4 linked regions of the Homo sapiens genome follow. The protein of the gene in region 3 interacts with the protein of the main gene of each other region in a biochemical or structural test. Each region holds a gene or a part of one and is shown on either strand. Other genes may lie near its edges.

What was found.
Region 1: the proteins of ITGB7 (region 3) and TLN1 form a complex in vitro, tested with the Homo sapiens proteins (one study listed by BioGRID).
Region 2: the proteins of ITGB7 (region 3) and RABGAP1 form a complex in vitro, tested with the Homo sapiens proteins (one study listed by IntAct).
Region 4: the proteins of ITGB7 (region 3) and MADCAM1 form a complex in vitro, tested with the Homo sapiens proteins (one study listed by BioGRID).

The regions. Positions count from the first base shown.
Region 1 is NC_000009.12:35,707,771-35,715,250, forward strand, and holds part of TLN1 (talin-1), read right to left. Parts: intron 7,418-7,480; coding exon 7,289-7,417; intron 7,107-7,288; coding exon 6,990-7,106; intron 6,918-6,989; coding exon 6,804-6,917; intron 6,604-6,803; coding exon 6,469-6,603; intron 6,312-6,468; coding exon 6,183-6,311; intron 5,529-6,182; coding exon 5,426-5,528; intron 5,274-5,425; coding exon 5,065-5,273; intron 4,355-5,064; coding exon 4,235-4,354; intron 4,023-4,234; coding exon 3,825-4,022; intron 3,625-3,824; coding exon 3,485-3,624; intron 3,313-3,484; coding exon 3,219-3,312; intron 3,117-3,218; coding exon 3,027-3,116; intron 2,972-3,026; exon of another isoform or gene 2,914-2,971; coding exon 2,791-2,913; intron 715-2,790; coding exon 571-714; intron 123-570; coding exon 1-122. UniProt on the Homo sapiens protein: High molecular weight cytoskeletal protein concentrated at regions of cell-matrix and cell-cell contacts. Involved in connections of major cytoskeletal structures to the plasma membrane.
Region 2 is NC_000009.12:122,985,984-122,993,463, reverse strand, and holds part of RABGAP1 (rab GTPase-activating protein 1), read right to left. Parts: intron 7,250-7,480; coding exon 7,045-7,249; intron 4,168-7,044; coding exon 3,993-4,167; intron 3,409-3,992; coding exon 3,251-3,408; intron 1-3,250. UniProt on the Homo sapiens protein: May act as a GTPase-activating protein of RAB6A. May play a role in microtubule nucleation by centrosome. May participate in a RAB6A-mediated pathway involved in the metaphase-anaphase transition.
Region 3 is NC_000012.12:53,196,772-53,204,251, forward strand, and holds part of ITGB7 (integrin beta-7 isoform a precursor), read right to left. Parts: intron 4,424-7,480; 5' UTR 4,301-4,423; intron 3,683-4,300; exon of another isoform or gene 3,676-3,682; 5' UTR 3,673-3,675; coding exon 3,472-3,672; intron 1,181-3,471; coding exon 979-1,180; intron 893-978; coding exon 722-892; intron 50-721; coding exon 1-49. UniProt on the Homo sapiens protein: Integrin ITGA4/ITGB7 (alpha-4/beta-7) (Peyer patches-specific homing receptor LPAM-1) is an adhesion molecule that mediates lymphocyte migration and homing to gut-associated lymphoid tissue (GALT).
Region 4 is NC_000019.10:491,391-499,654, reverse strand, and holds the start of MADCAM1 (mucosal addressin cell adhesion molecule 1 isoform a precursor), read right to left. Parts: upstream 3,170-8,264; 5' UTR 3,156-3,169; coding exon 3,104-3,155; intron 1,823-3,103; coding exon 1,538-1,822; intron 1,160-1,537; coding exon 830-1,159; intron 1-829. UniProt on the Homo sapiens protein: Cell adhesion leukocyte receptor expressed by mucosal venules, helps to direct lymphocyte traffic into mucosal tissues including the Peyer patches and the intestinal lamina propria.

The sequences.
Region 1 (7,480 bases), on a different chromosome or scaffold from region 3:
TCCTTGGCTGACTGTACAAACTGGCGCTTGGCAGTAGGATTGGTGGTACGGGCAGAAGCCAGGCGACAGCTGTTACACAGTGCAGAGGTGTGTTTAGCCACAATGGTGGCTGCAGAGAGCACCTGAGGAGACACATGGAAGAGCCACGATGAGGGCAGGAAGGAGGTGTACATACCCAAGGAGGAGCCATTTTAGGGTCAGGGGATGGAGAGCAATACCCTGAGGAGTCAAAACAGGAATAACAGAGTCACCTGAAAAGTCAAGATCTAGGAGACAGAGATACCCAAAGATGAACTGGGCATGGGAGAGGAAAGACATACTAATGGAGAAACCATAAGAGGGCATGTGGGAGAGTAAGCTCGAACATCTACAGAGAAGTTGTGAATTTAGCAGTAACTGATAAATGATGAGACCCATGGCAGAAAAAGACAGTTACCCAAAAAGAAGCTGTGTGTGCAAGGTCAGAGATGGGTCCCTGCCCTCTTTCCCACATGCCTCACCTCCCTCTACTCCACGGGGTCGGTCTGCCCTTTCCCAGACTCGCCTGTGGTCCCTGTTCCCTTGAGTTACCTGGGCCTGGGTACAGCCAGGCTCTCCCAAACTCTGGCAGGCCATCTGAATTGCCTGGTTTGCACGGGCAAACTGTGTGGGCTCCACTAGCCCTTGCTGTCCAGCTTGGCTATTGGGGTCAGAGACACCAACCAGATATGCAGCCTGGGAAGAGAAAAGGGGGTGGGGGTGAGGAATAAAGATTGCAGGTGGGAAATGAATAGTGATAGTAGGGACAAAAGAGAGCAGAGGTAAGTTTAGAGAATAGGGCTTATTTTCCAGAGTTCTCCATGAGTGGAGATACATTAGCAAACAATGGTTACACTATAAAGAAGAAAAAAAATACTCTCCTGTTTTCATTAAGTATATTCAAGCATTTCAGAAGATTAAAAAAGTTAATAAAAAGGAAAACTACATAGCAAGGGTTTTTATCCAATCTCTATTTAGATATGTTTGTGTATGTTGGGTCTTAGAGTGAAAAGTATGGCTTACTGTAAGTAGCAGTAAAACGTTTGAGAGCCATATATAAATACACACCTTTGTGCACACAAGCAAAGCCTCTTTTAAAGACAGTTCAAAACTGATGAAGGTTATTAGGCTAATTCACATTTATAGCACCTCCATGCGTCAGATATTTGGAAAGGAAGGGAGGGGTTAAAAAGCCATTTTTATGATGGAAAGAACATCCTAATGTTTGATTCATACTTCAATCAATACACAGTAGCTTTGCTTTTTCCTCTATGCATTTTCAGAAGGTGGGGGGAAAAAAACCAAACAAACAACAAAGAGGTTTAGTGAAACCCTGTCTCTACTAAAAATACAAAAATCAGACGGGTGTGGTGGCAGGCGCCTGTAGTCCCAGCTACTCGGGAGGCTGAGGTAGGAGAATCACTTGAACCCGGGAGGCGGAGGTTGCAGTGAGCCGAGATTATGCCTCTGCACTCCAGCCTGGCGACAGAGCGAGACTCCGTCTCAAAAAACAAACAAACAAAAAACCAAAAAAACAAAAAAACAAAATCAAACAAGCCATCTAGAGCAAGGCGCCTATTCTGACAGGGCACAGGGAGGTGGTGGAGATGGAGGGCTAGGATGGTAGGCTTTCAGGGAAAATAGTCTGAAGTGAACTCTTATGATGCCAGTTTGTTTTAAGGATTCATATACTAAAGCAAAATACTTTACAGCTAATAGGTAGTTTTATACTTGATAATGTGGGAAAAGGCAAAGTTAAGTGATAACTCAAGTAACTGGAAATTTTGTCACTAGTACTATTTTAAGAAAGTAGTGATTGGCCGGGCGCGGTGGCTCACGCCTGTAATCCCAGCACTTTGGGAGGTCGAGACGGGCGGATCACGAGGTCAGGAGATCGAGACCATCCTGGCTAACACGGTGAAACCCCGTCTCTACTAAAAATACAAAAATTAGCCGGGCATGGTGGCGCGCGCCTGTAGTCCCAGCTACACGGGAGGCTGAGGCAGGAGAATGGCGTGAACCCGGGAGGCGGAGCTTGCAGTGAGTCTAGATCGCGCCACTGCACTCCAGCCTGGGCGACAGAGCGAAACTCGGTCTCAAAAAAAAAAAAAAAAAAAAAAAAAAAAGAAAGTAGTGATTACAGGCCAGGCGCGGTGGCTCACGCCTGTAATTCCAGCACTTTGGGAGGCCGAGGCAGGTGGATCACGAGTCAGGATATCGAGACCATCCTGGCTAACATGGTGAAACCCTGTCTTTACTAAAAAAAAAAAAAAAAATACAAAAAATTAGCCGGGTGTGGTGGTGAGCGCCTGTAGTCCCAGCTACTTGGAAGGCTGAGGCAGGAGACTAGCGTGAACCCGGGAGGCGGAGCTTGCAGTGAGCCTAGATCACGCCATTGCACTTCAGCCTGGGCGACAGAGCGAAACGCTGTCTCAAAAAAAAAAAAAAAAAAAAAGAAAGTAGTAATAACATGAAAAAATAGTTTGTATAAGCTAATTAGTATATTTTGAGAAAGCCAGCTGGAAAAGGCCTCACGGTTGGGCAGTGTAATCCTAACCAAAGTACCAGGGTTCAGGAATTACAGAAATCAGAACTGCTGGTGTTCAGTAATTGCTGACAAGTGTCTCCACTTCAGGAGGAGGACAACCCAGATTCCATAGAGTTGGCTTTGCAAACATAAACTTCTTGATTTATCTACAGGTATGTCAGGCTGAGAGAAAATGGGGTAAAGAAAGTAGGGGCCATTCAAAGAACCCATCTCAGGAAAATAACCTGTGCAGCTGCCTCGGTGAAGCCACAAAGTGCCTTTGAGGCTGTGGAAATGGCATCTCCAAACTCTGGCAGGTTTCCGTTCTTGGCATTTTGGGAGATGCCAGTCATGGCCTCGCCCAGCACCTGAGGAACAGAGGACATCAGGGGAGTCAGAGCATGTCCTCAGAACCCCAGGGCAGCATCTGGTTAGCTCCATCCTACTGCCCTCTCTCCTCCGAGTTCCTGGCTGTGCTGACCTTTGAGTTCTCCATTACACTGTCCAGGCAACCAAAGTAGGACATGTCATTGATGGGCTGGACTGGGTTCTCCAGGAGTTCCCGGACCGTCTGTGTAGGGGGAGGGCAAAGTGAGATCCAAGACACCTCCCTCAGGCCCAAAACCAGAACACTTCCCTCAACCTCAATGCCATCAGCCTGCCATGTGTCTACCTCCAATTCCCGCAGGGCGTTATCACACTCCTTCTGGCCGGGTGCCTGCTGGGTGCACATAGTGATGAGCTGATTGATGCTGTCAGTTACTGCCCTGGGAGTGACAGAAAGTTGAGTGAAAAGGTGAATAGGTCATCATTCCTGGGTCCTATGTAAGTATTTATCTTTTGCCTATAACCATTCCTAAGCCAAGAAGCTCTCATGAACTGCCTGCTCCCCAGTCTCTCTCACACAGTCCAGGGCTGGGCTTCTCAGCAACTACTTACCTGGCAGCTGCAGCCAGCTGACTCTTGAGGTTAGGGGCAGCAGGGTCCGTGGACAGGGCCTTGGCAGCCAGAAGAAGTTTGCTTGAAGACATGGAGATGCCCTTCAAGTTGGACACAACTTGGGCTCGGTCCTCCTGGCTCTGTTGAAGGTGACAAGGTCAATGCATTGTCCTGTCCTTTCTTATCTGTCTCTAAAAGGGATCTTCTTTCCCAGACACTCAAGTAGTGCTAGAGACTGGGGAGGGAAGGGAGCCAGGAGCAAGTCAGGACTGGTCACTCAACTGCCTCCTATCTAACCCTTAGTGGGAACCATTCAACCAGACCCTCTGCCTCTTCATACCGGAGCCTGGCCTGCCATCTCCACACCAGCTTCCAGGAAGGTGCTGAAGTCCTGTCCAAATCGGCCTGAGGCTCGAGCCAGGTCCTGAGGGGTTCCCCGAGAGGCCTGCACCAGTTCTGTGGCTGCCTGATTCAGCCCAGCAGCAGCTTCATTCAACCGGCTCTGAGCTTCTTGAAATGTCCCAGTGCTAGGAGGAAGCTGCAAGGTGAGAGGGGAAGTCAGACAGAAGAGTGGGGAATGATGCAGGGAGAAGTCTGGTAAAGGAGGGCTGAAAAGGTGGGCACATAGCCTGGGAGTAATGAAAGGGGACAGATCTGGGAAGTCAGGGTCAAAGGACAACCGAGAGGGAGGAAGGAGAGGCCTGGCATTCTTTGACTCCTACGTTCCCCCACCCCCTACCGTCCTCCTACCGAGTCACTCAGGAGTCGCTTGCTGGCATCTCCAACTGCCCTCAGGGCATTATCCACATCGCGCTGGCCAGGTAGGCAGCTGACACAGCGGTTCAGAGCCTGGGTCACTGCTTTAGCCACCTGGGGTGAGAAAGGAGACAGGGTTGCCCAAGTGAAAAGAATTTGAGAGATCGCCTCCATTCACGCGACATGGGAGATGACTAGCTCTACTGCCTCTGAAAGTGAAAAAAGAAAGGGGGCGTTGTAGGTGAACAGGCTGAGGTTAGGGTTTCAAGTGACAGTAATTAAACTTCCCCAAACTTGGTGTTTAGCTCAGCCCATGACTGAATCCAACTGAGACACTTCTACAAGACCAAGAGGGCCGGGCACAGTGGCTCACGCCTGTAATCCCAGCACTATGGGAGGCCGAGGGGGGCAGATCACGAGGTCAAGAGATCGAGACCATCCTGGCCAACATGGTGAAGCCCTGTCTCTACTAAAACAAAATTCAAAAATTAGCTGGGTGTGGTGGCGCATGCCTGTAGTCCCAGCTACTAGGGAGTCTGAGGCAGGAGAATCACTTGAACCCAGGAGGCGGAGACTGCACTGAGCCGAAATTGCGCCATTGCACTCCAGCCTGGGCAGTAAGAGCAAAACTCTGTCTCAAAAAAAAAAAAAAAAAAAAGACTAAGAGAACATAAGGGTGGAATCCACAGAGGGGCTGTCAAGAGCAGACCCAAGAAGACATCACTCTGTGAGTGTGGACGAGGCTCAGAAGCTTTGGCCTCAATCAGGGTGGGCCTTATGAAGGAACCTGGGGGAGAGGGAGTGGCCCTTTCCCAGTATCTGACCTGGGCAAGCCGCTGCTGGCTCTCAGGGTCCCCTGGATGGCCAGCTGCCTTTTTCGCCTCCTCAATGAGGCTGCTGGCCTTGTCCAGCACATCACTGGCCGTATCAAGTACAATGGCCTGCACTGCAGGATCTGACGTCAGTGCAGCGACTCCCCTAGCGGCCTGGGCCAGTGACCGCAGCCCACCTGCCACATCCCGAGCTGCAATACCTTGGGAGATGAGGAGAAAGAGGGAAGGGAAGGTGCTTTCATTGCCAGGCCCTGATTCCAGTGGTTTCGTCTGTCAGTCCCATCCCTCATCCAGCTCCCATTTTCCTACCTCCCTCACAATATGCCCCATGCCTGGCTCTCTGCCCACATACCTGCATAATTCTCATTGCCCTGGGCAACCTCTCCCAGTAGCTGGGCGATGGCTGAGCTCACGGCTTTGGTGCTGTTGCCCAGGTCCTGGGTACACTTCTCCATCTAAGGATGAAGGGGGAAGAATTGGGCTTGAGAAAGGAGAAGGTGAGGAGAAGGAACCTGAGAAGGTACTTGGGGACAGGTGGCAATTTAAATAAATGTTTTGGGCTGGGTGCGATGGCTCCCACCTATAATCCTAGCACGTTGGGAGGCTGAGGCAGGTGGATCACCTGAGGTCAGGAGTTCAAGACCAGCCTGGGCAACATGGCGAAACCCCATCTCTACTAAAAATACAAAAATTAGCCAGGCGTGGTGGTGCATGCCTGTAATCCCAGCTACTCAGGAGGCTGAGGCAGGAGAATGGCTTGAACCCAGGAGGCAGAGGTTGCAGTGAGCTGAGATTGCACAACTGCACTACAGTTTAGGTGACAGAGCGAGACTCCATCAAGAAAGAAAAAGAAATAAAAGAACGGAAAAGAAAAGAAAAGAGAAAAGAAAAGAAAGAGGAGAGGAAAGGAAGAAAAGAAAGGAAGGAAGAAAGAAGGAAGGAGAGAGAAAGAGAAAGAAAAAAGGAAGGAAGAAGAAAGAAAAGAAAAATAAAAGAGAGAAAGAGAAAAAAGAAAAAGGAAGGAAGGAAAGGTTTTGAGCAGCTCTGGGGCACGGAGGTGAAGGAAGACTTTAGGATTTGAGTAAGAATGAGGTCTTAAACATACTTACTGTCTCCCCAGGTAAGGGTTTAAGCTTGCCATCTCGAGCTGCTGCCTTCACTTCCTGTAGATCTTTCTCTAGATTCTGTACCACACTCAGTGCAGAATCCATCTCCAAAGGTCCACATGCTTCCTGAGCCTATGATAAGAAAGGGGTTTTGGGTGTAGAAGGTCCTGCTGTGTCTCACCAATGCCTCTGATTACACAATTATCTGCGTATTGGGTTATTCTGCACAGATTTCCTCTCATCACAGGACTCCAGCCTCATCTTCCAAAGCCAGAACCAGCTTCCATACCTTCTGGGCAGCCGTCCGGAGTTCAGCCAGCGCGGTGCCCAGGTTCTTGGCACACTGACTCAGCTGCATGGCTGAAGCCTGGTCCTGAATCGTTGGCACTGAGGCCTTTGCAGCTGCCACCATCTTCCCACCTGGCTGTTGGGGAATAGGCAGGTGGATGAAGTGTGCCATCCTCCCTCTGGGCTTGGGTACAAGGACTGATGATGGTCAGGATGTAGGGAACACTGGGGCTTGGTATTGGGAAAGAGGCTCTTGGCAGAGATTCAAACTGTGGGAGATGGAAGCTTAGAAAGGTGGGAAGGTCAGGTCAGAGAAGTGCAGAGGGGGTGCCTTGCCTGCAGGAAGCTCTGGCTGGCAGCAATGAGGGCAAGCTGAGCGCTGGGGCTGTCAGGCTGGGCTTGGCTTCCTCGGACGCCCTGCACCAGCAGTGGAATCTGCTCTGCCACTGCCTGTAGGTGAAAATGTCATAAGAGACCCACAAGTCTCCCTCTTCCACTCCCACATCCTTCCTAGAGTCTTACCTTGCAGCTCTGCACCAGCAGGGGCTGGGGGCCGGCAGAGGCCTTGGGGGTAGAGGCTGCGTGCTGAGCTGCAGCGATGGTCTGTGTGGCTGAGGCTGCAGCCTGCTTGGCTGCATGCTGTGAAGACAAGAGTAGTCAGACCAAGCCCATGGATTCCCATGCCCAGCCCAGTCCCTGGCCTACCTTGCCCAGGTTATGCCTCAAGGACGTATTAACTTACTCTCCGCACCTCCCTTTCAGTTCATTCCTCCCACAGCACCCACACTCTCTCTTGCTCCTGGTGAAACTCCCAGCCTCACCTCCAGGCGCTGCACCAGCTTTTTCTTGATGGCATTCTGCGCAGCTGCATTGGTGGCCATGCGCAGCCCCTCAGCTGCCTCCCGCAGCCGCTGCTGCTGCTCCTCACTGTCAGGGTGGGCAGCTGCTCCCTGAGGGAGAGGTGGAAAGACAGTCATCACCCAGCTCTCCTGTGGATCCTAAAGAAGCTCCTC
Region 2 (7,480 bases), on a different chromosome or scaffold from region 3:
CCCGTCTCTACTAAAAGTACAAAAAGTAGCCAGGCGTGGCGGTGGGCACCTATAATTCCAGCTACTCGGGAGGTTGAAGCAGTAGAATCACTTGAACCCGGGAGAAGGAGGTTGCAATGAGCCAAGATCACGCCATTGCACTCCAGCCTGAGTGACAAGAGGAAAAACTCCGTCTCAAAATAATAATAATAATAATTTAAAAATTATACTTTTTCAGAAATGAGAAGAGCATTAATTATTCTCATCATACTTTGTCTATATTTATGTTAAAGTAAAACCACAGTAAATCTTGTGTTATACACAAATATGAGTTGGACAGGGGATAAGTAATATCCATAAACCAACATGTTTTAGTACTCTATTCAACACTTAATTTCTACTTTTAAAATTTGCTATTAATATTATACACAGTATGTTGGAGAACATTCATAATAATAATTCTTTGAAAACCTCAATGATTATTTCTGCAGATAAATTTCCATACATATTACAGAATTACTGGATAAGAGGAACTACCTTTGACAAGTTTAAATCTGACAAACCAAGGTATATTTTGCTAGGATTTCATACATCTAAAGTACTGTTGTGTTAACCTAATATATTTAGGTATAATAATTATTTTGGTATAATAATTATTTAGGTATAATATTTAGATAAAATAAATATTTAGGTATAATAGTAAGTATATAATAGGTTTTATATAATAATAGGTATATAACTATTACATAATTTATATGTATAATATATAATTATTATTATACCTAAATAATATATATTAACCTAATATATTTAGGTATATTGATCATTATACTTAAATAATATATTTAAGTTAACATAACAGTATTTATTATAAACCAGAAATTCAGCAAAGCCATGTAGCAAAAGGAGAACAAAGTCCTAACAAATGTGAAAAGCAAATCTGACCATCCAGGGATTTTCTGTAATAGCACTTTGTCAGTATTAACAAATAGAACAGAGATGTTTATGATCATTCTACCTTGAATATGCCTGATTTCAGAAGGAAGGGAAGTTATACTGATACTTCTGAGGGATCTTAATCTTTCCTATTTAATAATTAGAATTTACAGACCAAAACTACATAAATATTTTCAATAAAGAAAAAAAGGCCAGGCATGGTGAATCATGCCTATAATCCCAGCACTCTGGGAGGCCCAGGTAAATGGATCACTTGAGGCCGGGAGTTTGAGACCAGCCTGGCCAACACGGCGAAACCCTGTCTCTACTGAAAAATAGAAAAAATTAGCCCGGTATGGTGGCAGATGCTTGTAATCCCAGCTACTCAGGAGGCTGAGGCATGAGAATTGCTTGAACCTGGGAGACAGAGGTTGCGGTGAACCGTGATCGTGCCACTACATTCCAGCCTTGGTGACAGAGCAAGGCTCTGTCTCAAAAAAAAAAGAAAGAAAATATATTTAGTTTAAAGGTTGCTTAACAAGGTAAAAAACTACTTAAAATTATACAGATTATAATTTTCACTTTGCAGGGCAGGAAGGTACATTGCAGGAAGGACTACCTCACAGCATTGCTTTGAGAATAGAAATAGTCAGGAATGGTTGGCTCATGCCTGTAATCCCAACACTTTGACAAGCTGAGACTATCACTTGAGACCACGAGTTCAAGACCAACCTGGGCAATGTGGCAAGACCCCATCTCTAGAAAAACTTAAAAAAAAATTAGCCAGACATAGTGGCATGCATCCGTGGTCCCAGCTACTCAGGAGGGCGAGGTGGGAGGACTGCTTGAGACCAGAAGGCTGAGGCTGCAGTGAGTCATGTTTGTACCATTGCATTCAAGCCTGAGCAACAGCGTGAGGCGTATCTCAAAAAAAAAAAAAAAAGAGAGAGAGAGAATAGAAATCTATCTAATTAGAAAGCATAGAGCACAATGAGTCATACTTTACTCCTCAAAGTTTAAGCTGCACTGTACACTAAATTGGCCACCAGATGGCATGACAATTCCAAAGTCTGAAGAAAGACTAAAAATTATCAGTTTTTCTAATAATCTAATAAACCAATCACTGTGCTTAATTTAAAAGCAAAATATTAGAAATATTCATATTTTTATATAACTTCATTTTACCAATTTAATGAGGTAGTCATGGAGGAAACAGACTTCTACATGCAATTACTGATTATAATACAATCATTTTGGGACATGGGCTGTAATTTTAAAAACATCAAGTCATCTTGCAACCATAAAATTTTAAAGTGAGAAAGGGTTTTAGAGTCTAGCCACCTCATTTAATAAATGAGGAAACTACTGACAGATGTAAAGAAACTTGGAAATGGGGACACTGTTAATAGTAACAATAATTAAACTAAAGCTAAGTTTTGACTTCTATTCCATGGTTCTTTCCACCACTCAAAGGATTATCATTATATTTAAAAATTAAAATCAGTCACTTCTAACCCTACAAAAGATTAGACTTCAGACACAGACCTTATTTCTCCCCTTCCAATGTATGCAGATAACTTTACTGGGAAAACTTGACTTGAAAAGGCTTAAGATTTTTAGATTATTAATATAAGTAAATCAACCAACTAAAACAAGCAAATACAATCAGCAAAACAAATATAGCTACAAATCCAGCTGACTAAGCTTTGGCCATATATATATATATATATATATATATATATATATATATATTTTTTTTTTTTTTTTTTTTTTTTTTTTGAGACGGAGTTTCGTTCTCGTTGCCCAGGCTGGAGTGCAGTGGCAGGATCTCGGCTCACTGCAACCTCTGCCTGCCGGGTTCAAGCGATTCTCCTGCCTCAGCCTCCCAAGTAGCTGGGATTACAGGCACCCACCACCACGCCCGGCTAATTTTGTATTTTTAGTAGAGACAAGGTTTCTCCATGTTGGTCAGGCTCATCTCGAACTCCCGACCTCAGGTGATCCGTCCGCCTCAGCCACCCAAAGAGCTGGGATTACAGGTGTGAGCCACAGCGCCTGGCGGTTTGGCCATATTTTTGTGAGCAGTTAGCCACTTGGTATCTGACTAAAAGAAGGTAGCAACATGTTCCCAATATGACAATTTTTTTAATTGCTTTAAAATTCTTCAAACTTTGCCTCTGTTAAATTTATGTATTTATATGCCTTTATCATCCAGATTTTTTTTAAAAGCCCTCCCTTTAAAAGCCATCATTTTATGGTATGAAAGTTATAATCTGACCTAGAATTTCCCCTGAACCACAGCATGTTAATACATGAATAAAATAAGATTCCCTACCTAAAATAACCTTTACCATCATCTTCTTTTATTTCTAAAGACACAGAGAAGGTAAAGATGTCACTGTCAGGAGTCTGGGGTGCAGCAGTGGCTGAAAGTGGGGTCTGCTTGGCAGAACGGCGGAAGGCAGTGGCAAAACTGTAAAGTATCCGGCTTACCTACAACCAGACATGTTAGGAAATGGGCTGTTATCAAAAGATATAAAATACCTTTATTAAGGCTGGAAGATTACCTACTTTGGAGGGCAATAATTATCTTTATCCCACTTATTTCTTTTGGTAAATTACCTAATTTGTTAGGCCTATAAAGCAAGCAACACTAAAAATGTCCAGACAAGGGGTTTTAAAAAAGAAATGGTTGTAAGCACTATAAATCCAATTTAAAAATCACTTCCTAAATTGTTAGAAACTATCTGAAGATATTACAATGAAAACAGTCCTAACAAGTTTTGATTTAAAAGAATGGTTTGCAAATCTGTCAATGTTAGAACCAGAATGCCTACTTAACCCAATCAAAAGTAGCCAACAGATCTCCTCTGACATTCTTAGTAGTAGTAACAAAGTTCTAGTTAATCAAATTTTTAGTTAATTTATATTTTGGCCCATGAGGCTAGAATCACTAAAACAATAGCAGAGAATTTCATCTGGCTTATGAGTGATCATAATAAATACCATAATCATTTCAACCTAGTGAGGGCACTGGTGAAGTTTCATTTGCAGAGAGTTTTCTCTTGAGGACTTACAGCTTCTTGTATTTCACACCGGAAGACGTGTATTCTGAAGAGCTCTGCATTGTAATGACTTTCAGTGAAAGCAAAACAGTCACTCTCAGGAGTTCCATCATGCCCTCTGACACAGAAGAGGATTTTGTAGATAGGGTAGTTTGCTATTTCAGTGTTTGTCTGAGGATCTAAGAGTCTGTTCAGAGAAAAAGATACAGAGAGATTACAGGAATTATGAACAATCTGCACTACGTTTAGATTAAGATGTGAGACTCATTCTTTCTAGTAAGAAGATCATATATTTGGTATGCTGATATTAACCTTAAATTTTAATAAGTAACTCATATGTGAATTCCGGAAGCTATTGATTACGTAATTCCATAGTACTAAAAACCATATAGTATCATGTTTTAGGGAGGCAAACAGAAAGGTATAAACAATATCAATAAGCACATTTCTTATACAGTCTGCTACAAAATAAAGACGATTAATACGTAAATTAGACTACCAAAATACATCATTGAAGCTGTGCTTTTTTTTTTTTTTTTTTGAGACAAGTTTCGCTCTTGTTGCCCAGGCTGGAGTGCAATGGCGCAATCTCAGCTCACCGCAACCTCCGCCTCCTGGGTTCAAGTGATTCTCCTGCCTCAGCCTCCCAAGTAGCTGGGATTACAGGGATGTGCCACCATGCCCGGCTAATTTTTTGTATTTTTAGTAGAGACAGGGCAGGTTAGCCAGAATGGTCTCAATCTTCCGACCTCAGGTGATCCGCCCACCTAGGCCTCCCAAAGTGCTGGGATTACAGGCATAAGCCACCACACCTGGGCAAAGCTGTGCTTCTAATTATCTCCTTTAAAAATGACCTAATCTGTTATGAAAAAATAAAAAACAAAAAACTGATGCTTTTTCTCAGACTGAAACAAGTTTTTTTTTGATTCATGGAAAATAAGGACAGAAATTATACAAAATGTTAACTCCTCAAAAAAAAAAAAATCATGAATAAAAGCAAAAGGATGCCATTCAGTAAAAAATCAAAGGGATAGCATTCATTCAAAAATCTACTTATTCAACAAATATTTATGTGATACCTACAACATTCCAGACTCTGATCAGGGCAGTAAGGCACAACTATGGAAGGTCTAAAAAGAAACTATGCAATTTCAACACTATGTGGGTAGAGCCATTAATGGGAAAGCCTAGAAGGCCTTGCTCATCACGGAAATACCTAGGAAGAGGATCTAACACAGGTTTGAAAGCACTTTTATGAAAACTCTAAAAATGTGGGGTAAAACCGACTAGCTTTCTAACTTCTTTTATAGAATTAAAAATATATTAAAGTCTAACTTCAGTTAGAGGAATGAGTATTGACTAAGAAACATATAGAAATGAGTGCTAAACACATTTTATTAATAGTTTATCATTAATAAATAGAATTTGTGAGTCTTTGCAAAATAGTTATTTAAATACTTAAGGGGAAAAATTACATATACAGATTATTTTACTACAATCAACACACAGCTATTACTCTGTCACCATGAAAGTCCAAAATACTTCTGAGGATACTGAGAAATGGATATTCTATATACTGCTGATAAAAGTATAAACTAGATCAATATTTCTAGATGGCTAGTTGGCAATGTTATTAGAAGCAATAAAAATAGACAAACTCAATAAGTTTACTTCTAGGAATTTATCCTAAGGAAATCAACAGAAGTCTAAAAAGATTGAGCTCAAAGATACCTATTTATAAAACACTGATATTCCCATATAATTAAAACTAGCTATCATCATTCATGCTTTTTTCTCTGAAAGATAAAAGCCTTAAAATGTCTAATATAAGAGATGGGTTATTTATTTATAACCCATTCATATGCCATCATAAATTAAAATTTTTAATAATATTTACTGGCATGAAAAGAGGTTTACGATATAAAACTAAGTACAAGATGGTATGTACAGGTCCATTGCTGTTAAAAAAAAAAGTTGATTCTAACAGTTGTAAATTATGTATGTATATATATGCAGGTATATTTACATATACCTAGACATATACATATACCAATATGCAAAGAAGATCTTAATAAGCCAAGATGTTAACTGTATTTATTAGTGGTAGAGTAGAATTAAGGCTATTTTTATGTGGCAATTTTTTTAAATAAGCATGTATCTTTGGTAATAGGGAAAAAAAATTTATTTTACCTGCATTCATCTGACTTATTGAGCAACAGTATATTTAGCTGGTTGATACAGACATCTGATTAGCTATCTGCAATTGTTATTTGTTCTATTAGTATAAACAGCTAGAGGCTTCTCTGTGCCTCAGTTTTCTCATCTTTTTTTTTCATTTTGCTTTGTTGAGACAGGGTCTCACTTTGTCACTCAGTCTGGAGTGAAGTGGCATGATCACAGCTCACTGAAGCCTTGAACTCCCAGGCTCAGGTGATCCTCCCATTTCAGCCTCCTGAGTAGCTGGGACTATAGGTGTGTATGACCATGCGTGGCTAATTTTTGTATGTTTTGTACAGACAGGGTTTCACCATGTTGCCCAGGCTGCCCAGGCTGGTCTCGAACCCCTGAACTTAAGTGATCAACCCGTCTCAGCCTCCCAAAATGCTGGGATTACAGGCATGAACCACTGCACCTAGCCAGTTTTCTCATCATAAAAATTAAGGGGTGTGCTGGTATAGTTAATATTTAATAATAAATTTTTGTAACTTTCAAACTCAACATGAAACTCCATTTTGAAATAATGTGTCAAGCTTGTATTTTCATCAAAGGAACATGGAAAATATAATCTTTTAGGCTGACTCATGTCAATATATTTCATTTATCCCCAAAACATTAAATGCCTAATGTACTACACATGATCGGGAAGAGTACGAAAAACTATTACAAATAAGTAACCATTTTTCACAAAGGTCACAGTCCTTGGGAGACATGAGTGCCAGGTAAATGAAACGTTACACAAGTAAAATAACTATTAATATGTATTTTATTCACTATTGCTTCTTTCTGAAGCAACAGGTCAGAGATCTGATGTAAATATCGAAAGATTTCAACAAACCAGTCTCACCTCACAATTCCTTCAGACACATTCGGCACTGAAAGGGTAACATCTAGTGAAATCTGACACTGGCTTCTTAAGATGGACATCATCCTTAAGGCTTCCACTTCACTCCTGGGAGCATTTACCGAGGCACAGCCTAAGTAAGTCAGTTTACTGAAAACTACGCTGTCCTCATCGGCCACTGGTGTGAAAGGACTTGAAGCTTCAGAATCTGAAAGAAACAATGAATAAGGAAGTGATTACTTTCACTTTGATATTTTGTTGATACGATTAGCAAGTAAAAATCTGCAAGTAACATTTAAGGTCTAAAATTAAGTATTAATGAGACAATATGCCATACCCTAAAAGAAATGCCCATGAAAACCAGAAATCCCACACTAGAACTCTGTCAGAAACACCAAGATTTTTAGGTACAGGTTGAGCATCCTAAATTCAAAAATCT
Region 3 (7,480 bases):
ACTGTGCTCACAAAGGGCAGCACCGTTTTGTCCACAAAGGAACCAAAACCTGGGAGAGGAGAGGAATGAAGGTTGTGCCAGAAGTCGCAGGGCAGCAACAGAGGACCCATGAGAGCGCTCTATGGGAAGTGGGGTGGGGAGGACGGTGATGGGAGAGGGTGCACCTAGGGGGCAGGGACCTGGTAACTGGCAAGCAAAGCAGTGAGACCACTGGCTCAGGGAAGTGGCAGGTAGAAGACATTAAGAGGAGGACACAACTTCCTGGGCAAATGGGAACTTCCAGAAGGCGGAAGAAGGCCCGGGTATAGGATATGGTAGCAGCATGAGGCAAAGGAAGGAAATTTGAATAGAGGAGAGTTGGCACAGAATGTGGAGCCAGGGACAGTGGCATCTAGGTCTTGTCCAGGGAGACTTGCATCAGGGCAGGTTCCAGGTTGGTAGGCCCAGGGCAGCTGTCCAGGCCCAGAGAGTGCCTGAGCACAGTCTCTCCAGACGCTGGGTCTCAGGCCTGTAAAACGGATAGTCTCTTGAGTCCTCTCCAGCTCTGACCTAGAAGATGGGTGTCTAGGGAGAGATGCAGGAACGAACCTGTGGCCTGGCTAGGCCTGTCAACAACTGGGAGGGCAAGTTGGGGCCCTTGTGAGTCCAGGATGTTGGCAGAGGCTAGGGCAGTGGTTGAATAGGCAAGGGCTAACAGGGCGGGAGGCAGCGCTCGGCTCACCAATGCGCACAGAATGGGTGACTTCCTGCAGCCGGACCAGCAGAGCGTGCCCGAGCTGGCGCACGCGTTCCAGGTCGTCCTTCATGGAGTAGCTCAGGTCCATAAGGTAGTACAGGTCCACCGGGTATCCCTCAGCACGAAGGAAGCGGACCTGGAGCTGCTGGGGCTCCCCTAGGGGGTGGGCGGCGGGCGGGTCAGCAGAGCGCATTGGAACGCCAGCCTAGACCTCTGGCCTGGCCCCGCCTCCCCTAACTCACCAGGCCGCAGCGTGACCCGGACCCGCTGCGGCGCCAGCTGGGTGGCACCCTCTCCGCGGGCGCCCTGGCTGAGCGGCTGGTCCTGCAGCACCTCCTGCTGGCCGCGGGGCTCCTCCAGCTCCTCCAGCGGGCAGCCTCGAGCCAGCAGCTCCTCTCGTCGGGCGCAGCGCCGCGCCTCCGCCTCTCCCGACGCGGTGAAGTTCTGCTCAGCAAGAAAAGGCGCGTCGGGACCCGGTCCTGCATAGGCCCTGGGCCCCGCTCCCAAAAACACCCTGCAAACCCGGCCACCTCTAATGCCCCCACCTCCAGTCCACTCCTTGAGTCCCTGATTCCCTCCCCTCTTCCTCGCCACAGCTACCCTTGAACTCCGGTCTTTTTTGTTGTTTTGTTTTGTTTTTGAGACGGAGTCTCACTCTGTCACCCAGGCTGGAGTGCTGCGGTGCTATCTCCGCTCACTGCAACCTCCACCTCCCGGGTTCAAGTGATTCTCGTACCTCAGCCTCCCGGTAGCTGGGACTACAGGCATGTGCCACCACGCCCAGGTTTTTTGTATTTTTAGTAGAGACGGGATTTCCCCATATAGGTCAGGCTGGTCTCAAACTTTTGACCTCAAGTGCGCCCACCTCAGCCTCCCAAAGTGCTGGGATTACAGACGTGAACCACCACGCCTTTTTTTTTTTTCCTACTGTAAAGACAGGGTCTTGCTTTTTTGCCCAGTCTTGTTTCGAACTCCTGGCCCCAAGAAATCCTCCTGCCCCAGCCTCCCAAAGTACTGGGATTACAGGCATGAACCGCCACCGGTGGAACTCTGGTCCTTTCTTCCTTGTCAGAGCCCCACTTCCTATAGCAGTCCCCCACCCCTCCCCTATCTCAACTCCCCCTTGCCCCAGCCACCTACCCCTCTCCTCCCCAATAGAGTCACAGACTTCCTGTTGAGATCTTAGAGACTTCACTACCACAAAAAAACAGGGGCCTTGCCTCCTAGGCCAACCTCCCCAGCAAGCTCACACCAAAATGGGAAGGTGGTCAGACTAAGACCCACAGCTCCTTGGAAAGGAAAGGATAAGAACAGAAGAGGAGGCGTCCTCCCCACCAATATGTCTGGTATCCCTGGGACTGGTTGGGAAGCCACAGGGGAAGGAAATGGTTAGAGCGGCTTCTCAGCTGGCCCTAGGTGTCAGGAGACTGGAGAAGCCAGACACAGACCTGACCATCTCAAGAGCGCCAGCTCCCCAGCTCCAGCCTGGCACCTCTGCCTCTCTGCCTTGTGCAGACTCAGTATCTACCCTTCTTGTCCAGTCAGATTCACTGTGTGCCTTTCTCCTGGGTCCCTGTGTGCCTTTCTCCTGGGTCCTCTAAGCATCTGTAGCTCTGCTTCCATGTGAATTTGCCCCCATCTCTTATCTGGGCTCCCACACTGATCTAACCCTCCATCTTACACTGAGAGAGGCAGACCTGCCCCCATCCCAGCTTGGGCACCCCTCCTGCTCTGCTGCTCCATGAGTTCTGTCTCTTTAAAGCATAAACAAACAACAGCTTTGTTTGAAGAGCCAGGGAGACACCTGCTCCCTAGCATCCTTCTTGGCCACTTAGGTAGCTCAAGCCTTTCCAGTCCCCCTCAAGCCCATATGCTTCCACCCCTTCCCTTTCTACCTGTCCAGTCATAGGCTACTACACACCCAGGAACAGAATGCCTCCACCCAAAACACAGACTTAGAAATCTAACCACACACTTGCTGCTATGGACTGAACTCTGCACCCCTACCCCTCCCCACCCCCACCCCATCCTCTGTTGAAGCCCTAACCCTCCATGTGATGGTATTTGGAGATGGAGCCTTTGGGAGGTACCTAGGCTTAGATGAGGGCCTAAGGGTGGAACCCTCATGATGGAATTAGTGCGCTTACAAGAAGAGAGGCAGTTCCCACCCCCATCCCCCAACCCCATCCCCACTATGTGAGGACACAGCGAGAAGGTAGCCAGTCTGCAAGCAAGGAAGAGGGCCCTAACTGAGGAACCAAATCAGCCAGCACTTTGATCTTGGACTTCCCAGCTTCCAACATTAGGAGAAATGAATTCCTGTTGCTTAAACCACCCAGCTTATGGTATTTTGTTATGGCAGCCCGCACTGGGTAGTACCTTTCTCCCATGTTTACATACACAACAGCTCCCTCTACCTATACACAAGCATGAATTCCCACAAGCACATACTTTCTCCCAATTCATGGTCACAAATTCTCTCCATATATACACAAGCAAATGGATACAGACATAATCCTAAGTGCACAAGAAACTTGCATGCATGTGTATGCACACACGTATATCCACACACAGGAGTCCTATGTGCACAAACTCAGTCACACATGAGACTGTGGAGTGTTCCCAGAAAATCATACATGTGCCCACACAATCACACACATATATCCAGGCTGCACATACATATACACATACACATACACATACACATGGTTCAAAGACCATAGGCCCATCTTTACCAGTTGCTTGCACCATGCACAGCTGGGGTGTGAGAGGATGCACTTCTGGCAGGAGGGGGCTGGCTGGCAGGACCCCAGCATGGACAGGTGAGGATTCCGCCATTCTGTGGCATCCCCTGTGGATGGGATCTTGGCGTCCAATTCACTCTCACCTCTGCTCAGGACCAGCAGCAAAACAAGGACCATTGGCAAAGCCACCATGCCCTGTAATAGGATATAAAGGGGGACATGTGGGTCCTCAGGGAGGACTCTCAAACTCTCAGTCCTCTAAACTTAGCTTGTGGTTATCACTCTCAAAACTCTGCCCCAACACTTTATCTCCCCTCATAGTTTCACTTCCCCTGTGGATTCAGCAGTTTCTTCAAAATAATGGGAAGGAGCAGGTATCACGCAAAGGTAGGGGCCTCCGGACGTGGTGGCTCATGCCTGTTATCTCAGCACTTTAGGAAGCCAAGGTGGGTGGATCACCTGAGCTCAGGAATTCGAAACCAGCCTAGTCAACATGGCGAAACCCCATCTCTACTAAAAATACAAAAATTAGTCAGGCATGGTGGCGTGCACCTGTAATCCCAGTTACTCAGGAAGCTGAGGCAAGAGAATTGCTTGAACCAGGGAGGCGGAGGTTGTAGTGAGCCGAGATCACACCACTGCACACCAGCCTGGGTGACAAAGCAAGAATCTGTCTTAAAAAAAAAAAAAATAGGGGCCTCAGAGAAGATCTGTCCTTCCTGTGTGCAGACTTCATGTGGCCAAGGTGGGCAAAATGGCCTACTAAAGGATTTGGGGACTGAGCCTGAAAGCACTAAAGTCTGCACCCAGTTCTATTTACCGAGATCCCAAGCCGTAGTGGTAGAAGAGCCAAACAGGAAACAGACCAGATTCTGGTGCTGCTGCAGTCACTCACTGGCTGTGGGGCAAGTCAGACTTTCTCTCTGGGCTTTAGTTTCCACATCTGCAAAGTGGAGAAGTTGAATAAATAGTCTGACATACTTGGCGGCTTTTACAATCTTGGATTCTAAATAAGAGAAGAGGGTCAGTGACTGGGAATTAAAGAAAAGAAAGCTGGAGCAGATGAGGGAGTGTGTGAAAGAGTCAAGGAAGAATAGTTCTGCTTGGTTGACATGGTAGCAAGAGGAATGAAGATTAGACCACAAGAACTCTCTGCAGGTCTGGGATAAGGGGAGAAAGGCCAGTGTTGGCAAAAAAATTTTCTACTTTCTGTACTTTGCACAAAGATAATCTAGATTGAAGAAAGAGCCTGGAGACAGGGTAATACCTTGAGTGACCTTCAGGAAAGCCAAGCAAATTCCTGATTTTAAAAAAACATATTAATTTTTTAAAATGAGCAGGTAATTCATTTACCACGCTTCATAAGTCAAAAAGTTAAATCCCATTGGCCCTTTTTTTTTTGCAGAAATGGAAAAGCTGATCCTAAAATTTATATGGAATTGCTCGGAACCCCAAATAGCCAAAATAATCTTGTAAAAAAGATACTGCAAAGCTACAGTGATCAAGACAGCATTGGCTGGTCGCAGTGGCTCATGCGTGTAATCCCAGTGCTGGTGAGAAGACAGCTTGAACCCAGTAGTTTGAGGCTGCAGTGAGCTATGATCGTGTCACTGTACTTTGCCCTGGGCAACAGAGTGAAACCCTGTCTCTTAAAAAGAAAAAAAGAAGACAGTGTGGTACTGGCATAAGGATACACATATATTATACATCAGTGGAATAGAATTGAAAGAGTCCAGAAATAAACTATGCTTCTGTGGCCAATTGATTTCCAACAAGGGTGCCAAACCATTCAATGAGAAAAACTGTCTTCAAAAAATGGGGCTGGGGCTGGGCACAGTGGCTCATGCCTGTAATCCCAGCACTTTGGGAGGCCGAGGCAGGTGGATCACTTGAGGTCAGGAGTTCGAGACCAGCCTGGACAACATGGTGAAACCCCGTCTCTACTAAAAATACAAAAACTAGCTGGGTGTGGTGGTGGGCGCCTGTAATCCCAGCTACTCAGGAGGCTGAGGCAGGAGAATCACATGATCCCAGGAGGCAGAGGTTGCAGTGAGCTGCAATTGTGCCACTGCCCTGCAGCCTGGACAACAGAGTGAAACTCTGTCTTTTTTGTTTTGTTTTGTTTTTTTGAGATGGAGTCTTGCTCAGGCTGGAGTGCAGTCGCGCCATCTCAGCTCACTGCAACCTCTGCCTCCCAGATTCAAGCAATTCTCTGGCCTCAGGCGCCCAAGTATCTGGGACTACAGGCATGCGCCACCACACCCGACTAGTTTTTGTATTTTTAGTAGAGAGAGGGTTTGACCACATTGGCCGGGCTGGTCTCAAACTCCTGACCTCAAGTGATCCACCTGCCTCAGGCTCCCAAAGTGCTGGGATTACAGGCATGAGCTGGGATTACATGCCCAGCTGAAACTCCATCTTTAAAAAAAGGCCAGGTACCGTGGCTCATGCCTGTAATCCCAACACTTTGGGAGGCCGAGACAGGCAGATCACAAGGTCAGGAGTTCAAGACCAGCCTGGCTAACATAGTGAAACCCCGTCTCTACTAAAAATACAAAAATTAGCCGGGTGTAGTGGCACACGCCACCACTTTTTCTCAAAAAATAAAAGGTGCTTTCAACATGCAAAAGAATGAAGTTGGACCCCCTCCCCACCTCACACCATATACAAAGGTTAACTGAAAAGAGATCAAAGCCCTAAATATAACTACTAAAACTATAAATTCTTAGAAGAAAGTATATAGGTAAATCTTCATAATCTTGGACTTGGTAATGGATTCTTAGCTGTAATACCAAAAGCACAAACAACAAAAGGAAAAACAGATACATTGGACTTCATCAAAAATTTAAAGTTTTGTGCATCAAAGACAATGTCAAGAGAGCGAAGACAACCCACAGAATGGGAGAAAATATTTGCAGATTATATATCAGATGAGTATCCTTAATATATAACGAACTCTTACAATTCAACAACAAAAAGACAACCCAACTTTCAAAATGAGCAAAAGACTTAAAAAGACATTTCTTCAAAGAAGATAGACAAATAGCCACCCAGCAAATGAAAAGATGCTCAACACTATTAATCATTAGGAAAATGCAAATGAAACCCACAATGATCTGGGTATGGTGGCTCACACCTGTAATCCTAGCACTTTGGGAGGCTGAGGTGGGTGGATCACTTGAGGTCAGGAGTTCAAGACCGGCCTGGGCAACATGGTGAAACCCCATCTTTGCTAAAAATACAAAACTTAACTGGGCATGGTGGTACATGCCTGTAGCTCCAGCTACTCGGGAAACTGAGGCACAAGAATCGCTTGAACCCGGGAGGCAGAGGCTTCAGTGAGCCAAGATCGGGCCACTGCACTCCAGCCTAGGCGACAGAGCGAGACCCTGTCTCAAAAAAAAAAAAAAAAAAAAAAAAGAAAGAAAGAAAAGAAAAGAAGAAGAAAAAAACCACAATGAGATACCACTTCACTTCTACTAGAATGACTATCAAAAAATGAAAAACAATGAGTGTTGATGAGAACATGGAGAAATTGGGATCTTTATACATTACCGTGTAAGGAATGTAAAGTGGTACAATCTCTGTGGAAAACAATTTGGTTCCTCAATAAATTGAGCATAGGATTATCCTATAACCTGGCAATTTCACTCTTAGGTATATACTCAGAAGAATTGAAAACAGGTGTTCAAACAAAAACTGGTACAGAAATGTTCACAGCAGCACTACTCACAATAGCTAAAAGGTAGAAAGAACCCAGATGTCCATCAACTGATGAATGGATAAAGAAAAGGTGGTATATCCATACAGCAGAACGTTATTTGGCCATAAAAAGCAATGAAATGGGTCTGGGCACAGTGGCTCACGACTGTAATCCCAGCACTTTGGGAGGCCGAGGCGGGTGGATCACTTGAGATCAGGAGTTCAAAACCAGCCATACCAACATGGTGAAACCCCATATCTACTAAAAATACAAAAATTATCCAGGCATGGTGGTGGT
Region 4 (8,264 bases), on a different chromosome or scaffold from region 3:
ATGGAAAAGAGAATGTACGGGACTGGGGGATGTCAGATGTTATCCAAGGTGTCAAGAAACGAAACAGAAGGGAAAGGGGGCTCACACGCGTGTGCGTGTTTGTACACGCGTGTGCCTGTGTGCCTGTGTTTGTACACGCGTGTGGGTGTGTGCGTTTGTTCCCGTGTGTGCTTGTGTGCCTGTTTGTACACGCGTGTGCGTGTGTGCCTGTGTGCACGCGTGTGTGTGTCTGTGTTTGTACATGTGTGTGCTTGTGTGCCTATGTTTGTACACGTTGGGGATCAGGGGTTGACCCTTTAAACGGGAATCCAGGGAAGCCTCACGGAGGAGGCAACATTCTACAGAGACCTGAGGGGGAGGAGGAGAGAGCCGTGGAAAGATCCGGAAGAAGGGTATTCCCGGCAGAGGGCACAGCCGTGCAAAGGCCCCGGGGCAGGATCACGCCTGGTGTGTTGGAGGAACAGCGAGGAGGCGAGGAGGCCCGTGTGGCTGCAGCAGAATGAGGAGGGGGAGAAAGGGTGGAGGGAGGACAGGAAGGGGACAGGGTAGGTCGTGCAGGTTCCTGTGGGCCCCCGGGAGGACTTGGGCTTTGACCCCAAGGCAAGAGCCATGGAGCGCTGTGGGCAGGGGAGGGGTGGGACCTGTGCTGGGGGGCAGGTGCTCGGCAAATACATGTTGCGTCGATGAATGTCGCTGTCGCTGCGTGGGGGAATCCAGTCCTCCCAGCGCCCCACAGCACAGGTGCTGCCCCCCCACCCCCCCACCCCGTCCCGAAGTGCTTGTCAAGGCTGGCGAGCGGGTGGGTCTCCAGGGCACCCAGCGGACTCACCGGGGATGGCCTGGCGGTGGCTGAGCTCCAAGCCAGGCAGCCTCATCGTGGCCTGGCAGTAGAGGGCGGGCGGGACAGGGGTCCCCAGGGGCGGCAGCCGCCAGCGCTCTGTCACCCTGAACAGCACGTCCTCGTCCCCCTGGGGCTCCTCCTCCTCCTCCTGCACCTCCGGGCCCAGGGCTTGCGCCCCCTCCAGTTCCTGGCCCCCGACGAGCAGGGAGAAGGAGAGCGCGTTGGGGTCCACGGGCGTGACTTTGTGGGCCGTACAGGCCACCTCCGGGTCACCAGGCACCAGGGCTGCTGGGGAGACGGTCAGCTGGTCCGGGAAGGCTGTGATGGAGGGTCGGGGGTGAGGGCTGAGCCCAGAGTCAGGGCTGGACGTGATGGAGGGGCCGGAGCCCGGAGGGGCTTGGAGCTGGGGCCAAGGATGCGTGGGGGCTGCTGATGAACAGGCAGTAGGGACGGCCTGTGCGCAGGCCCCGTGGCCCCACCCTGGGAGGCTGGAATAGACAGGAGGATGGGCCAGGGCCGGCCCTGGGAGAGTTGGGGTGAGTTGGAGGGAAGCGAAGGCCGGGGACCTGGCTTCGGGGAGCTGTGCATGGAGCTGGGACCCTGCCTGCAATCTGGGAGGCTTCCAGGAAGAGGTGGCATAGGGAAGGAGCCGGGAGTCCAAGGGTCAGAGAGGCAGGGCGCGGGGGGACGCCTCACCGTACACAAGGAGCTGCACGGTGTGCTGGAAGGTGCGGCCCCCGCAGGAGCCCACGCACACGCGGGTCCCGGCCGCCGACAGCGAGGCGTTGCGCACGGTGAGGACGCTGCGGCCCGTGTCCGACTGCACCGCGCCCAGGCTGGTGTCCAGGCCCCGCCACTGCACCGAGGCCCCGCGGTCCGCGCAGGCCAGGCGGCAGGTGAGCTGGCGCGAGGCGCCCAAGGCCACGGCCACCACCGGCTCCGGGGGCTCCACCTGCAGGGGCTTCACCTGGAGGGACTGGCCTGCGGCGACCGCGGCTCTCGCTCAGCCCCGCGGAGTCCCGGACCCCGCCCCGCCACCGGCCCTGCGTCCCGCTCCACCCCCGGACCCCGCCCCGCCTCTGCCCGGTTCCCGGACCCTCCGCTGCACCCCCGGACCCCTGCCCCGCCGCTACCCGGACTCCCAGGCTCGGTCCCTGAACCCCGCCCCGACCGCCGCCTCTGCCCCAGTCCCCCGAACCCCAGCTGCCTGGAGCCAGTTTCGCTGCGGGTCAGGGGGCCGCGCGGAGCCCCGCAACTTCCCCTCTCAGCCCCTGCCTCCTCCGAGCCCCCTCCTCTGGCAGGATCACCAATCACCCCCTATCTCGGAGCCCCTTAACTCTGAGCACCCCTCGTCTCTCCCGCGCCCCCTCCGAGCCCCTCCTCTCTCCTGCGCCCCCTCTTAACTCCCTCCTCTCTCCCGCGTCCCCTCCCCGCTCACCGCGCCCCTTCCTCTCCCCCGGGCCCCCTCCCCTCTCCCGGGCCCCCCTTCTCTTCCGAACCCCCTCCCCTCTCCCGAGCCCCCTCCCCTCTCCCGAGCCCCCCTTCTCTTCCAAACCCCCTCCCCTCTCCCGCGCCCCCTCCTCTCTCCTGAGTCCTCTTCACTTTACTGCGCCCCCTGCTCTCTCCTGCGCCCCCTCCCCTCCGCGCCCCTCCTCTCTCCTGCGCCCCTTCTCTCTCCTGAGCCCCTTCTCTCTCCTGAGCCCCCTCCACTCTCCTGCGCCCCCTCCTCTCCCCTGCGCCCCTCCTCTCTCCTGCGTCCCTCCTCTCTCCTGAGCCCCCCCACTCTACTGAGCCCCCTCCCCTCTCCTGAGCCCCCTCCTAACTCCCTCCTCTCTCCCGCGTCCCCTCCCCGCTCACCGCGCCCCTTCCTCTCCCCCGAGCCCCCTCCCCTCTCCCGCGCCCCCTCCTCTCTCCCGCGCCCCCTCCACTCTCCTGCGCCCCCTCCTCTCTCCTGCGCCCCCTCCCCTCCGCGCCCCCTCCTCTCTCCCGCGCCCCCTCCTCTCTCCTGCGCCCCTCCTCTCTCCTGAGCCCCCTCCACTCTCCTGAGCCCCCTCCTCTCTCCTGCGCCCCTCCTCTCTCCTGCGTCCCTCCTCTCTCCTGAGCCCCCCCACTCTACTGAGCCCCCTCCCCTCTCCTGGGCCCCCTCCTCTCTCCCGGGCCCTCTCCTCTCTCCTGAGCCCCCTCCCCTCTCCTGAGCCCCCTCCTCTCTCCTGAGCCCCCTCCTAACTCACTCCTCTCTCCCGCGCCCCCTCCCCTTCTCACCGAGGAGGAGCCCCAGAAGCCCCGCCAGCAGGAGGGCCAGTCCGAAATCCATGCTCAGTCCCCTCTGTCCCGAGGCCGCGGGGAAGCCGCTTAAATAGAGGCGCCCACTCCTTCCCGCCGCCCGGCGACCCCGCTCCAGCTGCTCCCCGGGGGCTTCCCAAGGGGCTTTCCTGGCCTGACCCCCGACCCTGGAGGCGGCAGAGAGGCAGGGGCTGGGGGCCAAAGATGGGGCGGGGTCCCGGGGCCACTCAGGACGGGCAGGCAGGAAGGTCTGGGTCTGTTCCAAGCCTCATATTCAGGCACGGGAAGATCGCAGACGGAGGCCGGAGGGTCGAGGTCAAGTGCATGGAAGTGGGACAGAGGCTGGGCAGCGCCGCCCCCACCCCGACGGCGGGTCCCCTGCACTTTCTTTTCTTTTTTTTCTGAGTTTCGCTCTTGTTGCCCAGGCTGGAGTGCAATGGTGCGATCTCAGCTCACCGCAACCTCTGTCTCCCGGGCTCAAGCGATTCTCCTGCCTCAGCCACTCCAGTAGCTGGGATTACAGGCATGCGTCACCACGCCTGGCTAATTTTGTATCTTTAGTAGAGACAGGGTTTCTCCATGTTGGGCAGGCTGGCCTCGAACTCCCGACCTCAGGTGATCCGCCCACCTCGGCCTCCCAAAGTGCTGAGATCACAGGCGTGAGCCACCGCGCCCGGCCCGCCTGCACTTTCCCGGGCGGCCGCACAGGGGCGGTGGAGAGCAGCCCTCCCCCGTTCCGGAGCTGCAGGCCGGGTCTTGTTGGCTGGGGTCCCCTGGGGGTCAGGTGAAGGTCGCTGGGGATGGAGGCCCCCTGGACTGAAGTCTCCTGGCCGTGGTGGAGCTGTGAGACCCTCCAGGACGTGGGACAAGTCACCCCATCTCTGAGCCTGGCTTCCTTCCATCACACGGGCAGAGGCCGCCCACCTAGCAGGCCTGGCTGGAGCCTGGGAGCCCGAGTAGGGGCTGCCTCTGTTCCTTGGTCTACACTGAGACCTGGATCTCGGTCCACAAGAGGGATCTGGAAGGGATGCTGGCTGGACTCCCACTCACAGCTGCCATCAGCGAGTCCTGGGAACCTCATCTTCCAAACGCACTGGAATCCACCCACCTGTTCCTCCAAGCCCCGCACACTGGTTCTGTCTCCGCTGGTGGCTTGTTTACCCCCCTGCATCACCGGGACCCTCCCAGGGCCTCTGGGACTCTGCCCGGGCTGCTCCTCACCTTACCCAGGTTCTGCCCACCCCCTCACCCCCTCGCCCCCCACCCTCCTCCGCTGTGGTTCCCAGGGTGCTCTGCTCCTAGCTCAATGAGGGCCTGTGGTGGCAGTCGTGATGGCTGGCTCCCCTCCACCCAGGGGCCGGTCCTGTGACCCTGGACCCCATGCACCGCAGGCACGCGGGAATAAAATGATGGAGCATTCCTGCTGACCTCAGGGTCTGTCTGTGCCTCAGTTTCCCTGGCCATGGAATAAAAAGCAGCAGCCAGTCCATGGGGTTCCAAGCATTGCCAATCGGCTTACCTGTCAGAGGAGGGAAACTGAGGCCCAGGGGCAGGGCTGGGACCAGAGGAGGGAAACTGAGGCCCAGGGGCGGGGCTGGGACCAGAGGAGGAAAACTGAGGCCCAGAGGAGGGGCTGGGATCAGAGGAGGGAAACTGAGGCCCAGGGGCGGGGCTGGGACCAGAGGAGGGAAACTGAGGCCCAGAGGAGGGGCTGGGATCAGAGGAGGGAAACTGAGGCCCAGGGGTGGGGCTGGGACCAGAGGAGGGAAACTGAGATCCAGGGCAGGGCCTGGGTGCAAAGGAGGGAAACTGAGGCCTAGGGGAGGGGCTGGGTGCAGAGGAGGCAAAATGAGGCTCGGGGGAGGGGCTGGGTGCTGAGGAGGGAAACTGAGGCCTAGAGGAGGGGCTGGGTGCAAAGGAGAGAAACTGAGGCCTAGAGGAGGGAAACTGAGGCCCGGGGTGGGGAAACAGTCCCCTCAGAGGTGAGGGCCCAGGTGTGTGAGCTCACAGCCCTGTCTCCCTGGGTCCCATCCCCCTCCTGCCCAGGCTGGTGCCGGGAAAGGCCTCACCGGAAAGCAGACTCCGAGGAGGGGCCCTCCCCAGGCCGGAGGTGCAGGCCCTTCCCGGGAAGCTGGGCCCTTAACCCGGGCGGGGGGCAGCAGGCCTGGTGAATGGGCTGTTTCCCAGCCCCCGACCCTACTTCCTGCAGGTGGGGAGGGACCACTGGGCGCCAGGAGGGCTGAGGCCCCTTGCAGGGTGTGTCCCAGCTCTCCAGGGCCCTGTCCCCCGCCCGCCCGCTGGGTCACGCGTGGTGATCACGCTGCTCACAGTCCCCGTGTGCCGAGCCCTCACATCCACAGGCTTGTGGGGGCGGGGAGACAACAAAGCTGGGGTCCCCCTGAGGACAGGGCAGGTGGGATGGACACAGGAAGGAGGAGGGAGGGTTCCCAGAGGCAGAGGGACCCGCAGGTTTCAACGGCCAGAGGTGGGGAAGGCGGGGGTGAGGGAGACACAGAGACAGAGAGAGAGAGACAGAGACACAGAGAGACAGAGACAGAGTGAGGAAGAGAGACATAGGGAGACAGAGACACAGAGAGGGAGAGACAGATCAAGGAAGAGAGACAAGGCAGAGAGACACAGGGAGATAGAGACACAGAGAGACAGAGACAGAGCGAGGAAGAGAGAAGGCAGAGAGACACAGGGAGACAGAGACAGAGACACAGAGAGGCAGAGGCAGAGGGATGGAGAGACCGAGGTGGGCCAGCAGCCTGAGGGCCGGGGAGGACCCTGAGACCCCTGGGTCTGAGTCCTAGTCCCACAGGAAGGCCTACACCGTATCTTCCGCCGGCAACGGGGACCTCCTTTTTGTCCTTGGGAGACTCGACCCCGCCCCCAACATCAATCCCCTTCCCGGCATTGTCCTCGGCGGCCTCCGTCAGGAAGCCCCCTTCCCATGGAGGGTCCCAGCCAGGAAGCCCCCCTTCCCATGGAGGGTCCCAGCCATCCCACCAGCCCCAGACCCCACATCCTGGCCTCCCTGTCCACAGCTGCCGAGGGAGCGTTCCAGATGACTGTGTTGCCCTGAGGGGAAGGGGCTGTGAGGGCGCCGTTGTCCAGGAGCGGAGCACGCCCCAGGCCCTGACAGACCCTTCTTGACCCAGCTGGGCCAGCTCTCCTGTCTCCCACCCACTGGTCAGTTCTGGGGTCCTCATGGCTTTTTCTTTGGAGTGAGGACCCCCATCACGGCAGGGCCTCCTTGTTGGACAAGGCTTGAACCCAGTCCAAGGACCCCAGACCTGAGGGTCGCAAGGAGAGTGGGGGAGGAATGAGATTGATGGAGGCTGCAGGAGGGGGTTCAATAAGTAGCCATGTGCATGCATGTGTGTGTGTGCATGCGTCTGTGTGCGTGCATGCGTGTGTGCGTGTGTACGTGTGGAGTTGTAGCCATGAAGCCCACGATGGGGGTGGGCCTGGCTCCCGCATCAGGTTTAAGGAGGAAGGATCGACCGGGCGCGGTGGCTCACGCCTGTAATCCCAGCACTTTGGGAGGCCCAGGCGGGTGGATCACGAGGTCAGGAGATGGAGACCATCCTGGCTAACACGGTGAAACCCCGTCTCTACTAAAAATACAAAAAAGATTAGCCAGGCGTGGTGGCGGGCGCCTGTAATCCGAGCACTTTGGGAGGCCGAGGCGGGCGGATCACGAGGTCAGGAGATCGAGACCATCCTGGCTAACACGGTGAAACCCCGTCTCTACTAAAAATACGAAAAAAATTAGCCGGGCGTGGTGGCGGGCGCCTGTAGTTCCAGCTACTCAGGAGGCTGAGGCAGGAGAATGGCGTGAACCCGGAGAGGCGGAGCTTGCAGTGAGCCGAGATCGCACCATTGCACTCCAGCCTGGGCGACAGAGCAAGACTGTCTCAAAAAAAAAAAAAAAAAAAAAAAAAAAGGAGGAAGGAAGGATCTTCGTGGCCCACCTGGCACAGGTCCCTGAAGGAACCCTTGTCCGAGTCGAGTCCCTCCCCGCAGGCTGGCCGAGCTGACCACGTCGCTGAGCCTGGGCAGAGCTGACAGGCCTCCCTGGGGTCAGTGACCGCCTGGTGAGGGGCTGGGGCAGTGCTCAGTCTCCAGCAGCCCCGGGGAAATTGGACATGGAGCCTCAGGCGATGATGCTGGTGTGGTCTCCACGGCAGCCCCACCTGAGCTAATCAGGAGGGGTCTGGGGGGATGGGGGTCCATGGGGCAGGAGGCACACTATGGTGAGAGCCGGCTTGGGGCTGGCTCCGCCCAGGGGAGGGGGGGCTTGGGGCTGGCTCCGCCCAGGGAGAGGCGGGGCCTGGGGCTGGCTCCGCCCAGGGGAGGGGGGCTTGGGGCTGGCTCCGCCCAGAGGAGAGGCGGGGCTTGGGGCTGGCTCCGCCCAGGGGAGAGGCGGTGCCTGGGGCTGTCTCCTCCCAGGGGAGGGGGGGCTTGGGGCTGGCTCCGCCCAGGGGAGAGGCGGTGCCTGGGGCTGTCTCCGCCCAGGGGAGGGGGGGGCTTGGGGCTGGCTCCGCCCAGGAGAGAGGCGGTGCCTGGGGCTGTCTCCTCCCAGGGGAGGGGGGGCTTGGGGCTGGCTCCGCCCAGGGGAGAGGCGGTGCCTGGGGCTGTCTCCTCCCAGGGGAGGGGGGGCTTGGGGCTGGCTCCGCCCAGGGGAGAGGCGGTGCCTGGGGCTGTCTCCGCCCAGGGGAGGGGGGGGCTTGGGGCTGGCTCCGCCCAGGAGAGAGGCGGTGCCTGGGGCTGTCTCCTCCCAGGGGAGGGGGGGCTTGGGGCTGGCTCCGCCCAGGGGAGAGGCGGGGCCTGGGGCTGTCTCCGCCCAGGGGAGGGGGGCTTGGGGCTGGCTCCGCCCAGGGGAGAGGCGGGGCTTGGGGCCGGCTCTGCCTGGGGAAGCGGCGAGGCCTGGGGCCCTGGTCAGCTGCTCTGACGCCTTGGTGCTCCCGGGGGCATCTCCAGGCTCACCCCAGCTTCCACGGCCCTGTCTCACGGGTCAAAGGGCCACTCAAAAGCTGCTTTGAAGACGGGGGCCCAGCCAGGAGCCGCACAGGCCTCTCCCGAGGGTCTAGGTGGCTAGAAGGGCACAAGCCACACGGCGTCGCGTCGAGAGACT